2 linked regions of the Homo sapiens genome follow. The gene in region 1 interacts genetically with each later gene. Each region holds a gene or a part of one and is shown on either strand. Other genes may lie near its edges. The genes, in order: SMC1A and CDCA5.

Region 1 (7,266 bases):
AAACTCCGGGAGCTGAAGGGGGCCAAGCTAGTGATTGATGTGATTCGCTATGAGCCACCTCATATCAAAAAGGCCCTGCAGTATGCTTGTGGCAATGCCCTTGTCTGTGACAACGTGGAAGATGCCCGCCGCATTGCCTTTGGAGGCCACCAGCGCCACAAGGTGTGGATTCCCTTGCCCAGGCTGGAGCTGGACAGGCTCAGTACTGGAGATTCATTTGTTCAGCTTCTCCCCCTCTTCTCTCTTCCCCCTGCTGTGTGTAGACAGTGGCACTGGATGGAACCCTATTCCAGAAGTCAGGAGTGATCTCTGGTGGGGCCAGTGACCTGAAGGCCAAGGCACGGCGCTGGGATGAGAAAGCAGTAGACAAGTTGAAAGAGAAGAAGGAGCGCTTGACAGAGGAGCTGAAAGTAAGCCACAGGCAGTGCTGTTTTTAGCAGTGGGAGTCCTAAGCCTAGGTCAGCCACCACCTTACCACCTAGCCCTTCTTTCTTGTTCCCTTCAGGAGCAGATGAAGGCAAAACGGAAAGAGGCAGAGCTGCGTCAGGTGCAGTCTCAGGCCCATGGACTGCAGATGCGGCTCAAGTACTCCCAGAGTGACCTAGAACAGACCAAGACACGACATCTAGCCCTGAATCTGCAGGTGGGGCCTGGCCTTCAGCCCTGTTCTCCAAAGGCCATCCACACATTCCTGGCCTAGGTTTCTCTGGGGGTGGGGAACTTGTTTCACTTCCCCGTCTCCTCCCAGCCTGCCGCAGGGAGTCAGGTATAGCATAGAGTCAGACAGCCAGGGGTTCAGAGCTTGGCTCTGCCTTGAGTTTGACATTAGGCAAGTATTTTCACCTTTCAGTGTCAACCTTCACATCTTTATCTGTGAAATGCGAGTTAAGATGATACCTACTCGGCCGGGCACGGTGGATCACCTGTGGATCACCTGAGGTCAGGAGTTGGAGACCAGCCTGGCCAAACCTGTCTCTACTACAAATACAAAAAATTAGCTGGGCGTGGTGGCAGGCGCCTGTAATCCCAGCTACTTGGGAGGCTGAGGCAGGAGAATTGCTTGAACCCGGGAGGTGGAGGTTGCAGTGAGCCGAGATCATGCCATTGTACTCCAGCCTGGGTGACAGAGCGAGACTCTGTCTCAAAATAAATAAATGATACCTACTTTATAGGGTCATTATTGAATGAGTTAACATGTAAAGTGCTTAAGACTACCATGTGTTCAGTTTATGTTATGTGCTATTGTTAGCATAATTTATTCATTCAACAAATTTGAATTTTTGAAAGTGAGCTATGGGCATTTCAGTCCCTGCTTGTGGTAGTGGGCGGGGCGGGGGGGGACTGTTCTAGGTATATTAATGTGTTTTGTTTTTTTTACTGACTACTTCCCCAGACCGCCCTAGAGGTTTTATATGTAGTGTGTGTATTTATATATCTTTTTCTAAACTCAAAAAATCTAAACTGAATTCTGAAACAACTCTGCCCCCAGGGGTTGTAGATCAAAGACTGGGACCTATACCTAATGATGTTTACTGTGTCCCCAGCCCTGTGGATTGAAGCTGGCTGAACTGGATGCCAGGGAAGAAGCCATGTGATGGCTTCAGTGCAACATCATGGAGGCTTGACTAGGGCAGTAGTGCTAAGCCAGGTTCTCTCAGTTGTGGAGAGCTAGCCCTTCCTGACTGTGGGGCCAATGCAGTCAAGGTAGCTTTTTCTCCAAGGAGCCTGGTCTGCTTTGTCCTCTCAACCCATTGCCTGTAGGAAAAATCCAAGCTGGAGAGTGAGCTAGCCAACTTTGGGCCTCGCATTAATGATATCAAGAGGATCATTCAGAGCCGAGAGAGGGAAATGAAAGACTTGAAGGAGAAGATGAACCAGGTTGGTAGGGTGTGGGCCATGCCAGCGTGTGTGTCAGGGCAGGACTGGGACTGGAAGCAGGACAGACTAAAAGGGCCGATGCCCTCCCTGGCTTCTCTTCTCAGGTAGAGGATGAGGTGTTTGAAGAGTTTTGTCGGGAGATTGGTGTGCGCAACATCCGGGAGTTTGAGGAAGAAAAGGTGAAACGGCAGAATGAAATCGCCAAGAAGCGGTAGGTGGGAGGATTGGTAGAAGAGATTGGCATGCCCTTGAGCCTCTAGCTTGACATCCTTGGAAAACCAGATGCTGTCATAGGCAAGGGTCAGCTCTTAGAACTATGTGAGTTTATGTAGCTAGGCCTTAAAGAACAGAAATCAGGAGGGCAGTATGGCATAGTTATAGTGGTTAAGAGTGCCAACTCTAAACTTGATTTTCTGGATTCCTGGATTACAACCCCAGCTCCACAACTCGTTATCTTTGGCAGTGACTTGACTTCTGTAAGCTGCAATATCTGCAAAATGGTATAATGATACCTATCTCATGGCATTGTTGGGAGGATTAGGTGAAATAATTTTTTTTTTTTAAGATTACCTGTTTTACCTTTTTTTTTTTTTTTTTTTTTTTTTGACACAGGATCTCACTCTGTTTCCGAGACTGGAGTGCAGTGTCAATCTTGACCTTCCCAGGCTCAGGTGGTCCTCCCACCTCAGCCTCCTGAGTAGCTAGGACTACAGATGTTTGCCACCACGCCCGGCTAATTTTTCTTTTTTTGTTTTTTGTTGTTGTTGTTATTGTAGAGATGGGGTTTTGCCACATTGCCCAGGCTCGTCTTGATCTCCTGGGCTCAAGTGATCCTCCTGCCTCAGCCTCCCAAAGTGCTAGGATTATAGGTGTGAGCCATATTGCCGGCCCTTTTTTTTTTTTTTTTTGAGACAGAGTCTTGCTCTGTCGCCCAGGCTGGAGTGCAGTGGCATGATCTCGGCTCACTGCATTCTCCACCTTCCGGGCTCCCGTGTTCATGCAATTCTCCTGCCTTAGCCTCCTGAGTAGCTGGGACTATAAGTGCACGCCACCATGCCCGGCTAATTTTTCTTATTAGTAGAGATGGGGTTTCACCATGCTGGCCAGACTGATCTCGAACTCCTGACCTCGTGATCCACCCGCCTTGGCCTCCCAAAGTGCTGGGATTACAGGATGAGCCACCACGCCTGGCCCCAACCCCCGCCTGGCTTTTTTTTTTTTTTAACCTTTTTAAAAGGTATTTAGCAGCTTACATATCATCTACTAAGAGCAAGAAATAGTAGCTTTTGTTGTTATTATCATAATGGGCAACGTGAGGTGGAGGGAGGCGGGAGATGAAATTCTTGGTTGAAACAATAGTCAGAAGAAAATAATCTTCTCATTTTTCCTCACTTTAGTTGATTCATTCATTCAACAAACCTTTGTTGAGTACCTACCTTGTGCCAGGTTGTCTTGTGCTAGGTATTGGAAGGGGGACAAGGGAGATGGAGGTAAGACAGATGAACACAACACAGTCTTTGCTGAAGGAGGTCATCCCTTGTACCCTGGGCTTCAGTTAGCAGTTTAGCCCTTTGCCCATACAGTAAATATTCATTGCTGTCCTACTTCAAGCCAGTCTCAAGGGATATAGAATTGAATCAGACTGTATTTCTTTCCTCAGGAAACATATAGAGTACTGGGGGAAACATCAATTTGAGGACAGTGTGATCAATGGTGTAATTAAGGTAGATACAAAATACTGAAGAAATTTTCAAGGAACTGCAAATCAACAACAGGAAAAATAAAAAACAATGACAAGAAACCCAATGGAAATGTGGCTAAGTACTTATGATACCCAATGCAATGAAAAAAGTAAAAAAAAAAAAAGTGGCAAATAATATAGATAGGCTTTCATGGAAAGAGAAGTTCAAGTGGCTAATGACCATAGGAATTGAGGTCTAACCTCTTAATCAGAGAAATGCAAATTTAAAAGTCTGACAGTATTAGGTGGAAATCTATAGATGTCCTGTGTAGTATGTGAAAAAAATATATGTGTATATATATAATGTATATATATACACATATATAAAACCTATGGGTATATATCCCTGAGAGAGTCTTGCCATAGGGTCCCAAAGAGATACACATTCAGTGTCATTCATCTTGGCATAACTTGTAGTAGTGGGACATTGGTGGCAATGTAGATGGCCATTACTGGGGGAGCATAAGTCAAATGAATATATAGACTGGAATACTGTGTGGGAGTTCACAGCAAGAACTAGATTTGTGGGCAGTAATGGATAACTTATAAACCTGGTATTGACCAGAAAAAAGAATAAAATTTATAACACAGTAGATTTGTGTAAATTTTAGAACTAAGACATTTTACAAGGATATGCATTTTTAAGGAATGCATGTGTGTATGTCACTTTGTGGTGCATGTTCACAGTAGGGAAGGTAATGGGAATGGAAATTGGGGATTGAAACAAAGAGGACAAGGGAAGGGTCTTGCCCAGGCAGTGGTGATAAGTGTGTTATGAACTGTGGGATATGATTAACTTGCTTCTGCACCTAAAGTCTAAAAAGGGAGGAACCCAACAAAGTGTAATAGAAACTAGGAACCTGCTCAGAACCGTCAGGAAAGGTTTTACAAAACAGGGAGTGATGACTGGAGACCTGAAGAGTGAGTAGGATTTAGCCAGCCAGGCAGCGACAGAAAAAGTGAATTCCAAGCAGAGAGAACAGCATGCTTGGAAGTGTGAGAGAGCATGCCTTGTTCTGGATACTAAGTAGTTTTTAATGTCTGGAGCATAAAAGCAGGGTCAGGAAGAAGGTGGGGAGTGGTGGAGAGGTCAGCAGGGGCCGGATCACAGAGGCCTTTGTGAGTCATACTTAGGAGATTGGATATAAAATTGCATAGCTCAAAATTATAGAGTTAGTTATATTTCATTTGGATTATAGTGGCTAATAGGTTTAAGCTGCTAGCATGACATCTGGCAACATCTGTCACACCATATTGGGAGTTGGAGAGGGCAATTGGAAGTTAGTCCTGCCTGGCCTGCCAGTGCCTGTGTATGCTGGTTGCATACTCTTGAGTTTCTGAAGAGATGGAGAGGAGGACAATAGCAGGAATCCAGTATTTTCTCCATGTTTTTGTACTATCCAAGTTCTGCCCTTTAAGAGGTTCTGGGACCTTGGGGCAGAAGTTGGGATGCTGTAGTTGAAGCCCTTGGACAAAAGTAAGCTGAGTACAGTCAATATACCTGGTGATAATGGTAACTAAAATTGATTGAGTAGTTATCGTGGACTCGGTGTGGTTCTAAGGACTTTATACATATTAACTCATTTAAAAATCTCCCAATAACCCTGAGGTAGGTACTATTATTATGTTCATTTTGCAGATGGGGAAACAGGTCTGGAGAGTATAACCAACTTGCCTGAATGACATTACTAGTAAGTGGCAGAGTTGAGATGCCAGTCTTCTTAATCCACTACATTATGTTGCAGTGGTGGTATACTAGAAAGAGCCCGGGTTTTGGTGTTAAATCTGGGTTTCAGTCTCACATGTGCCATTTACTAGCTGTGTGGCCTTGGGCAAGGTCTTTTACCTCTTGGCCTAAGTTTTCCTCATTTGTAAAATTAGGATAATAATGCCTACTTGCAGAGCTGTTGATTAGAGGATTAGAGATAATGTATGTAAAGTACATAGAAGCCTAATAGGAATTACCATAGCTGGTAGAATCAGATGGACTCTTTTATGCCTCCTTGTAGGAACTTGGAGGGCGCTGGGGTCTTCATTGTTTAAAGGGGGATAAATAAGGTTTGGCCGAATCTTCCCTGCCTTATGCCATGTCCACAGGGCTAGGCTGAGGAACTTAGTTCTTCAGCTTCAGGGGACCGTTTTATGTGCATATGGATGGATGAAGCAAGTTGTGACTGAAAATCAGTAACTCTGGGTCCCTGAGCCCTGGGTCTAGTTTCCCTTTCTTCCCATAGTTGGATTTTGTACATTGGTTATCTCTGGCTGATGAGATTATGAGTGATTCTCCCCCCACCTTTATACACAGTTTGGAGTTTGAGAATCAGAAGACTCGCTTGGGCATTCAGTTGGATTTTGAAAAGAACCAACTGAAGGAGGACCAAGATAAAGTACACATGTGGGAGCAGACAGTGAAAAAAGATGAAAATGAGATAGAAAAGCTCAAAAAGGTAAGGAAGGAAAGAATTAAAAGACAGACTAATAACTGGGAGGAAAAATGGGAAGAAATACGACAGACAGAAGGATAATGTCCACAACTTAGAAATTTCTCATCTAAATCAATAAGAAAAATACCAAGACCTAAACGGGAAAAATGGATAAATGTCACAAACAGTTCAAGAAGACTTTCAAATAGTCCCTAAACACATACAAATAATTTAGTCTTACTAAAGAAATGCAAATTAAAGCAACAATTAGATACAATGTATTTTGTAACACATCGTGGAAAATGTAAAAACAGAAGACACAATGCTCAATACCAGCCATGGTATAGGAGACCAGTATTCTTTTTTTCTTTTTTTGAGATGGAGTCTTGCTCTGTTGCCCAGGCTGGAGTGCAGTGGCACTATCTTAGCTCACTGCAACCTCCGCCTCCCGGGTTCATGCCATTCTCCTGCCTCAGCCTCCCAAGCAGCTGGGACTACAGGTGCCTGCCACCACGCCCAGCTAATTTTTGTATTTTTAGTAGAGACGGGGTTTCACCATATTGGCCAGGCTGGTCTCGAACTCCTGACCTCATGATCCACCTGCCTCGGCCTCCCAAAGTGCTGGGATTACAAGCATGAGCCACCGTGCCTGGCCAGGAGACGAGTATTCTTATGTAATGTGGCACCATCCTTCAAGAAGCTTCACAATGCATTTATACTCTGTAACTCAGTAGTACCTGAGGAGATCATCCAAAATGCTGGCAAAGCTTTATGCAAACACTTTGATGTTTATAACAAGCATTATTTATAGTTCCAAATTGGAAACTACTCAGTGCCCCTTGGAAAGTGGGAATTTAGCAAATCATGCTACGTTTGTAACATTATTTATGTAGTGTCTTCAAACTTTAGTAATACACAGACCCTTTTTAAAGGAAAAATAGTCCCTAAGATTGCCAGTGTTGCCTTAAATCCGTGATGTTACTTAAGTATATATAAATATATATACTTAGAACACTTAACCAAATGCTAAGACAAAGTTAAAAATTAAATACTAACAAAATGAGCAAAATTTAGATTGACCATGTAAATTCAGTGCAACAAATGATGATGTTTTGCTGAAACCTAGTCACTTCACAGTGTGACTGTGCTACTGACTGCTACAGCTCAGTTCTTTTGAGTTTAGCATGCCTGTGCCACCATGTATTGTGTGATGACTCAATTTTC
Region 2 (8,119 bases), on another chromosome or scaffold:
GACCACATGAGCTTTCACTACACGGTCGTCCTGATGGTAGGCTCAGGGCAGGGACGCAAGGGCTGGCTGTGGGAGACCCGAGGGGCTGATGGAAACCCCACTGTTGTGCGAGGGGGCCACTCTCCCACTGGATGGGCCTACAGTTCTCCCAGGTGATCAGCATCTGCTGGGCTGCCATGGGGTCACTCTATGCTGAGATGACAGAAAACAAGTACGTCTGCTTCTCCGCCCTGACCATCCTGAGTGAGTGGCAGGAGTGGGAGGGTGCAAGAGGGAGCGGGGAGCTTTGGAACCCTGAGATGTGGCAAGGAGTAGCCAGGGAAGGGTACTGGGGCTCATGGGGGGCTCTGTCCCCCGCCCAGTGCTCAACGGAGCCATGTTCTTCAACCGCCTGTCCTTGGAGTTTCTGGCCATCGAGTACCGGGAGGAGCACCACTGAGGCCTGGGGAGTCGGAACAGGGCTAAGGAGGGGGAAGCAAAAGGCTGCCTCGGGTGTTTTAATAAAGTTGTTGTTTATTTCCACCTGCCAGCTCCTTCATGGGGCGAGGGGTCGGAGGCTGGAGACCCGGGAGGAAAGCAAGTCAAGACAAATGCTTGACCCACGGGGACTCCAGGCCTGGCCTGCAGCCACTCTGGTGGACTTGGCTTTGGGTCTGGGGTCTTAGTGTCTTAGGCTTGAGGGAGAGGGGCAGTGAAGAGGTGCCCTCAGCCTCCCCATTACCCCGCCTCTCCTCCACAGAACCCACATCCTAGGCTGGCCTAGCCACAAGCAAGGGGGCTCAGGAGGGGCCCACGCGGATGTGAGGGTTCATGAGTGGGTCCAGGTTGGGATCGCTGTCAGCTGCGGCCCGGCCTAGGCGAGACATGAGGGCAAGGAGGGCCAGGAAGCCCAGCAGTCCCAAGAGTAGCAGCAGCCCCGCCCGCTGGAGCAGGGTCAGCGGCCGCTTCCGAGACCCAGCCCGGCTCCTGGGGGGATGAGGGGAAAATCAGGTCAGGCCCCAGTCCCTGGTGGCCCCCGCGGCTGGAGAGAAGCCCTGGTCACCACCCATTCCTGAGCCTCCATCTCCTCGTCTGTGCCTCAGGGATGATCACTCCTGCACCTGCCACCATAGGGCGTTATTGTGCAGCTCAAACCAGCTGAGGCGCACGACTGTATTCTGGAAACCACAGTGTGTCAGACGTCGGGGAGAATTACAAAGATTAGGGGGTGTCAGATCGGGAAGGGGCCTCAAAGAGCCTGAGTTCAAACCTCCTGTGTAGGAGGCATAGAGACAGTCCCAGAGAGAAGCAAAACACAGCTTCTGCTGCACAGCCAAGGCCTCTCTGCACAGCCCCAGCACCAGGTACTGTTACTCCCCAGAACAAGCCCCTTTTGTCATGAAACCATCCCTTCCAGGACCTCTGGCTCCCATTCCCTCTCCACCCCTTCCTGGCATTCCGCCCTGCCTGACCCTGTGTACCTTAGCAGCCGGGCCAGCCAACCCAAGGCCGGCCGACGTCGGTACTTGTCATCGTCACAGTCTCCATGGAGGCCTGGTGTCCGGTCATCATCCCGCGTATCATACACCTTCCTAGGGGCTACAGGGTGGAGCCACTAGCATCAATAGACTCAGGAAAACTGGCCGCTTTGGGGAGGGCTAGGGGGATCACCTGCTCTCCTCAGTCTGACAGAACATCTCAGAATTGTGAGGAGGTAATGGCTGTGCCTGGATTAAGGAAAGGTTCCTCCGGGTGGGTCTCTGGATCCTCAAGCTCCCCCTATACAAACCATTCCACCCTCTTCCTATCCTTCTGCGGCCTGGATAACTCCCAGGCTCACCGTGAGTCAAGGGCTCAGGATTGCCCATGTGGATCACTGTGTGCTGCTCGGGCCGGCCTGGGGAAGCTGGGGGCCGGGGGGCCTGGCTGTAGAAGGCTGGGGCAGCAGAGGCGCTGTCTACCTCCTCTGGTCCAGGGGTACTGCTGGCTGTGGGTGGAAAGAGAGCCGTCAGCAGAAGCAGTGCATAGAGCTCAGGGGTAGAGCATGTGACTGCAGACCAAGGGAGCTGTCAGCAGAGCAGGGAGGCTAAAGCCCAAACAGTCGGTGGAAGCCACCACTTACCATTAAAACTAGACCAGTCAGAGAAGTCAGACGTGTTGAGGGGCTCGGGCTCTGGGCTCACCACCTCATCGATCTGGAGGAAGGAATCTGGGTCACCAGGCTGCCTAGTATTGTCCCCACCCACCCATCTGACTCAGGTGGGGCCCAGGGCAGATAGATGGTCAGACAGACGAGGGACTCTCACCAGAGGGAGGCCCAGTCCTGCCCGGGCCCAGTTGACTGTGGCCAGCTTCTCTCTCAGTGCGGAGGCCACGGGGCCAGCCAGGTTGGTTGGGGGGAAGATGGGGCCATTGCAGCTGGGGCACTGATAGCCGGCAGGTGCCGTGTTTCGGGGTAGCTGGGCAGCACGTTCATTGAGGCAGGCCCAGTGAAAGAGATCTTAGGGCCCATGAGACAGGGGAGAAGAGACATGAGGAAGAAGACACTTAGGGCTCCTAGCCTAGCAATAGTCCCCAGACCATTGCAGGACATATGGACACATGTGTGTGTGCCAGAGCCTTCTCCTCCCCGTCCTGTTCCCTAAAATGTCAGTCTTCTTGGCTACCACCATCTAAGTCCAGGCAGGTGCTACCAAGCTGTCCAGCTCACAGGGGTAAGTTTGGGTAGGAAGAAAACGCCACCTCCCCTTTCAGTCCTTTCAATGAGTCCTCTCTGGGCCTGCACTCATCATATTCTTTGGGCTAATGGCTAATAATGAACAGTTTCAGAAAAGGTTCCTCGATACACACACAGGCACACATATACATGTACACATCCCTGGGCACAAATGTACATGTCCTTATAAGCACATAATCAAACACAAGTGGCATTCCCTATATCTACACTATGGGTACAGGAGCCCTCACACATACACATCTATACACTCACAGGTTTGCTAACAGGCACCCTCAACCATGCATTCTCTTGCACTCCCACAACACACCTGTGTTCATATGTTCACATACATACATTTACCCATTCATTCACCCCAAGTACAGATCAACACACTAACACTCATTTAAACACACAATGTACATTAAGTGCCTGCAAGTACACACATGCACTCACAAGGAGAAACACATATGGAGCTGACTCTTGCATGAGCTCCTTCAAAAACTGGAGCTAAGGCTCTTACCCCAGATTCAGGTCAAAGTCATGACACATATGTCTGCTGACTTCTTTTAGCTAACTTTAATGTGGGAAACTCACTTCCTCTCTGTTTAGCCTTGGAATCAGTGGTGGATCCTGAATATCTGAAAGCAACATGCCGGTCTGGCTAGCTAATAGTCACGGCCACCAGCATACCCGTAAGCTTGACTGGTTCTCGCTGAAACCTCCAGATTGGCAGGGCTTAATTTTTAGGAAAGAGGAACTAGGAGCTTTAATTTTTAGGAAAGACAGTGAGGCCTAGAAAGGAAGAATAACTTGCCTGAACTTACACAGCAGGTAAGGAACTTTAACAGGACTAGAATCTGGGCTCTGAGACTCGGGGGACTCACTGTCCTGCTGCTTGAGGAGGGCCTGGAAACCAGTCACCAAGCTGGCCCCTGAGGCTGGCCTGATCCCCCCGAGGTGCCAAGGCCTCACCATAGCAGACAAGGCGGGTCGTCTCTCGGCTGGCCAGGGGTATGTTGCACAGGCGGCAATTGGGGTTGTAGTCGCTATCTTGGAGCCATTGCAGGTAGGACTGGACGATGCACTGGAGTGGGAGAGAGATGTCACAACTGGTGCTGGGGCTGCTCGGCCTATCACCCCAAGGTCCGACTGTCTCTTTTTCTCTAGCCACAGAGGAGACTCATCCTTTCGTTTGTTTAATCAATAAATATTTATTGAGCACATACTGTGCACCAGACTCTCTCTTGGGAACGGGGGATATATCAGTGAACAAAATAAATCAAGTCCTTGCCCTTGTGGGGCTTACATTCTAGCGCGGGGCCCCTCATGGATTTGGAGGAAGCCAATACCGCCTTGCCCACCCAGTGCCCTGCTCAGTCGCTCCCCTGAAGGCCCCACCTTGGCGTGATTGGCTACCAGGCAGTGCTCGCAGACGTTGACCCGATGTTCGAAGCAGAACAGGTTGGTCACCTTTCTCTTGGGGCACTTACAAAGCCCCATGATCGATCCTGGGAAAGGGGCATGAGTTGGTAGGAAGTCAGGTTCTGGTGGCCACCACTACGCTCTCACCAGCCCAGTTTCCACTCTTAACTCCCCCAGACACCTCTCATATTCGCCCCGATCTCAGATTCCTGCCCACTGTCCCTCCTTATGCGGAGAAACACCCCCTGCATAAATCCCGCCTCCGGCGACCCCTCAATCCTTCTGGATCCCGCCCCCGGCCAGGCCCCTCCATCAGAGGCTCCCCGATACTACCGGCCCCGCCCCCAAGACCTCTCCTGAGCCCCACCCCCTCCAAGTCCCGCCCCTTCTCTACAGACCCCAGTCTCTGTGTTTACTGATCGGCCGCTGCACTGGTTCCGAAGGGCGGTAGCGATGGCTCGAGGCGCGGAAGGGCAGGGACCACTCTCCCCAGGGCTCCTGCGCCTCTCCCTTCAGCCCCGGCCGCCCCGATTATCCCTCCGCTGCCACGTCTCTTCCGGGTGCGGCGCGCGCTGATGACGCCATCGCGCCCCTGGGCCACGCCTCCGCTGCCGCTAGAGGTGAAGACGGGTGGAAAAGACTCGGGGTTCCGAGGGCCGCAGACCGCTAGCCCTACGTCACTTCCGCTTCCTTTCCCGCAGGGCGGGTAATTCGAACGTTTTTTGCAGCGAGTGGCCTTCCCGGTTGGCGCGCGCCCGGGGCGGCGGCGCTGGAGGAGCTCGAGACGGAGCCTAAGTTATGTCTGGGAGGCGAACGCGGTCCGGAGGAGCCGCTCAGCGCTCCGGTGAGCGGAGGGCGCGCGGGAGACGTGAGGTCGAGCCGTTTGGGGGACGCAGTCCGGTGAAAGATGGCCTCTTCCCTCCCGCTGCCGCCGCCGGAGGAGGCGCCCTTAAAAGGGCTTGTTTGGGAATCTTCTCGCTGTCTCTAGAACCTGTTCTCTGGACTCTAAGGTCTAGAGTCCTCCTCTACCACTTAACTTTTTTCTCTTTCCAGGGCCAAGGGCCCCATCTCCTACTAAGCCTCTGCGGAGGTCCCAGCGGAAATCAGGCTCTGAACTCCCGAGCATCCTCCCTGAAATCTGGCCGAAGGTGAGCCCCAGATTTCTCACTTCCTCCCCTTGTGGCCCCTCACCTAATGTTGAGCTCACGTTCATCCCTCTTCTCCAGACACCCAGTGCGGCTGCAGTCAGAAAGCCCATCGTCTTAAAGAGGATCGTGGCCCATGCTGTAGAGGTAAAGGCTAAGGAGAGTGTTGTGGGTGGTTAGGCGGGCAAAACTGGGGACCAGCTATGTGATCAATTGGTATTGTCCCCCGCAGGTCCCAGCTGTCCAATCACCTCGCAGGAGCCCTAGGGTGAGTTCACTTTCATCTACTTAATTAAGTAGAATCTGGGTCACTCTAGAGCTGGACAGCACACATTGGCTCCTCACATCTGCCCAGGGAGCTGTTTTGCAGTACTGCAAAAACAGTTTGCCTGTGGGCACCTGCATGCATTGCCAGTCTTGATTACTCCCTGAAGACTTAATACACTTAACTTTTTATGCCTTGTGTATTTCTACCATTTTCCTGGAACTTCCTTTAAAAGCTGAGCTATGTCTTAACTCCACGTACTGCCTTTCTAATCCATTATGCCTTCAGCTTTCATGTATGGGTGTTCTGAGATAAGTCATGTGTATGACATTTTTACAGTTTTAGCAGAAGTTATTATCAAAGGATGTTTCATTAATAGACAATCTGAAGACATACTGACTGAGAAATGTGAACTCCTTTGAAGAGCTGATAGGGCTTAGAGTCAACTGGGGAGAAAGACCAATGACAAGTGATAGCAACGTTGTGTACTGGGACTGCAATAAGGAATACTAGATGCTATGATGGTAGCTAACCCAGACCATGTGGCTCAGGGAATGTTTCGTGGAAGAAGAAACATTTGAACTGAGTCTTTAAAGACAAGTAGAGGCCGGGTGCAGTGGCTCACGCTTGTGATCCTAGCATTTTGGGAGGCTGAGGCGGGCAGATCACTTGTGGTCAAGAGTTTAAGACCAGCCTGGCCAACGTGGTGAAACCCTGTGTCTACTAAAAATACAAAATTAGCCAGGCATGGTGGCACGTGCCTATAGTCCCAGCTACTCAGGAGGCTGAGGCAGGAGAATCGCTTAAACCCAGGAGGCGGAGGTTGCAGTGGGCCGAGATCACGCCCCTGCACTCCAGCCTGGGTGACAAAGCGAGACTCCATCTCAAAAAAAAAAAAAAAAAAAAAGACAAGTAGGTTTGTTCCAGGTCAAAGAAGCCATGTTTGCAGAGATTGGGAATTTAAAGAAAAATCAAGGTTCGGGGAATAGCAATTTGTTTAGTGTCTGCAGCAGACCTCAGCAGGGGAGGAAGCACCCTAAGGCAGAGCAGATCCTGATGAGGCACAAAAGCCACACTCATGGCTTGGGCATCATTCTTGGGTCTGTGGGCAGCCTTTGGAGAGTTCTGGGTAAGGTAGTGACCGAGTCAAGTTTGAGTGTTTTAAGAAAGACCCCTCTGGGGGCTGTGGGGAGAATGGTTTTGAGAAGGGCTACCCTGGGGCTCCAAGACCAGTGGAATGACGTGAAGTCCAGGAATTCTGAAGCATGAAGCCAAGGGCGTGAGCTAAAGCCAGGATGATATACAGTACTGGGTTCAGAGGGAATTGCCCCCCAGTGGCCTTCCCTGACCACCCTTACCCTATTGCTGTCACATTTCTCTATGTAATTCTCTTAGGCCTTACCAGTTCTAAAGATAGGGTCTTGTTCTGCCACCCAGGCTGGAGTGCAGTGGCGAGATTTCGGCTCACTGCAGATCTTCCCTCCTCAGCCTCTCAAGTAGCTGGGACTATAGTCACATGCCACCATGCCTGGCTAATTTTTTGATGTTTTCTCTAATTTTTTTTATAGAGATGAGGGTTCACTATGTTGCCCAGGCCGGTCTTGAACTCCTGGGCTCAAGTGATCCTCCCACCTTGGCCTCCTAAAGTGTTGGGATTACAGGCATGAGCCACTGTGCCTGGTCCTTATCAGTTCTTATAGTGTATTTTCTTGCATGTTTGATGTCTTTCTCTCCCCCCTCTAAGAACACAGGCACCTTGAGGGTAGGGACTTCTGCCTTTCCTAGTAGCCACTCATTCTTGTTGATTGACTGAGATTCATGGTACATCGAGCAGGATAAAGTTGCCAGGACCTGGGTGACTGCTTGGCTATAGAGAATGAGGAAGTCGTAGTCAGCAGTGACCACCAATTTGTTCAGCTTCCCTGTGTTTTTTTTTTTTGAGATGGAGTCTCGCACTGTCACCCAGGCTGGAGTGCAGTGGCGCAATCTCGGCTCACTGCAACCTCCGCCTCCCAGGTTCAACCGATTCTCCTGCCTCAGCCTCCCAAGTAGCTGGGCTTACAGGCACCTGCTACCACACCTGGCTAATTTTTTTTGTATTTTCAGTAGAGATGGGGTTTCACTATGTTGGCCAGGCTGGTCTCAAACTCCTGACCTCAGGTGATCCACCCACCTCAGCCTCCCAAAGTGCTGGGATTATAGGTGTGAACCACCATATCTGGCCACCCATTATCTCTTGAACTTCATCTTCAGTTTCTTCCTCTTGCCTTCACTTCAGCCACACTGGCCTCCTTGTTGTTTGACCCTGACTAGTACACTGTGGCCTCAGGGTTGTTGCACCTTCTGTTCCCACTGCCTAGAACTTGGCCATGAGTCACTCCCACACCTCCTTCAAGTTGTAGCTTGAATGTCACCTCAGTGAGGGATGTATTGACCTTTATCTTTTTGCAATTCTAACCTGCCCCAAGCACTCTCTCCTGTTCTGTTTTCCTGTAGTGCTTGATACTGCTAACATAATACTGAATTTTCTTACCTGTTTTTCTCTTAGAATGGGGCAGGGGTTTTCTCTGTTTTATTCCCTGCTGTGTTCCC

Evidence for each region.
Region 2: of SMC1A (region 1) and CDCA5, a change in one rescues a mutant of the other (synthetic rescue), as found in Homo sapiens cells (one study listed by BioGRID).

Annotation. Positions count from the first base shown.
Region 1 is NC_000023.11:53,398,389-53,405,654, reverse strand, and holds part of SMC1A (structural maintenance of chromosomes protein 1A), read left to right. Parts: coding exon 1-162; intron 163-263; coding exon 264-410; intron 411-505; coding exon 506-643; intron 644-1,761; coding exon 1,762-1,878; intron 1,879-1,982; coding exon 1,983-2,089; intron 2,090-5,924; coding exon 5,925-6,066; intron 6,067-7,266. UniProt on the Homo sapiens protein: Involved in chromosome cohesion during cell cycle and in DNA repair. Central component of cohesin complex. The cohesin complex is required for the cohesion of sister chromatids after DNA replication.
Region 2 is NC_000011.10:65,080,775-65,088,893, reverse strand, and holds the start of CDCA5 (sororin), read left to right. Parts: upstream 1-4,853; 5' UTR 4,854-4,915; coding exon 4,916-4,961; intron 4,962-5,170; coding exon 5,171-5,265; intron 5,266-5,343; coding exon 5,344-5,409; intron 5,410-5,494; coding exon 5,495-5,530; intron 5,531-8,119. Other genes in the region: CATSPERH (cation channel sperm-associated auxiliary subunit TMEM262), read left to right, coding at 1-36, 144-243, 363-439; ZFPL1 (zinc finger protein-like 1), read right to left, coding at 780-966, 1,461-1,578, 1,820-1,966, 2,102-2,174, 2,286-2,479, 3,668-3,779, 4,094-4,195. UniProt on the Homo sapiens protein: Regulator of sister chromatid cohesion in mitosis stabilizing cohesin complex association with chromatin. May antagonize the action of WAPL which stimulates cohesin dissociation from chromatin.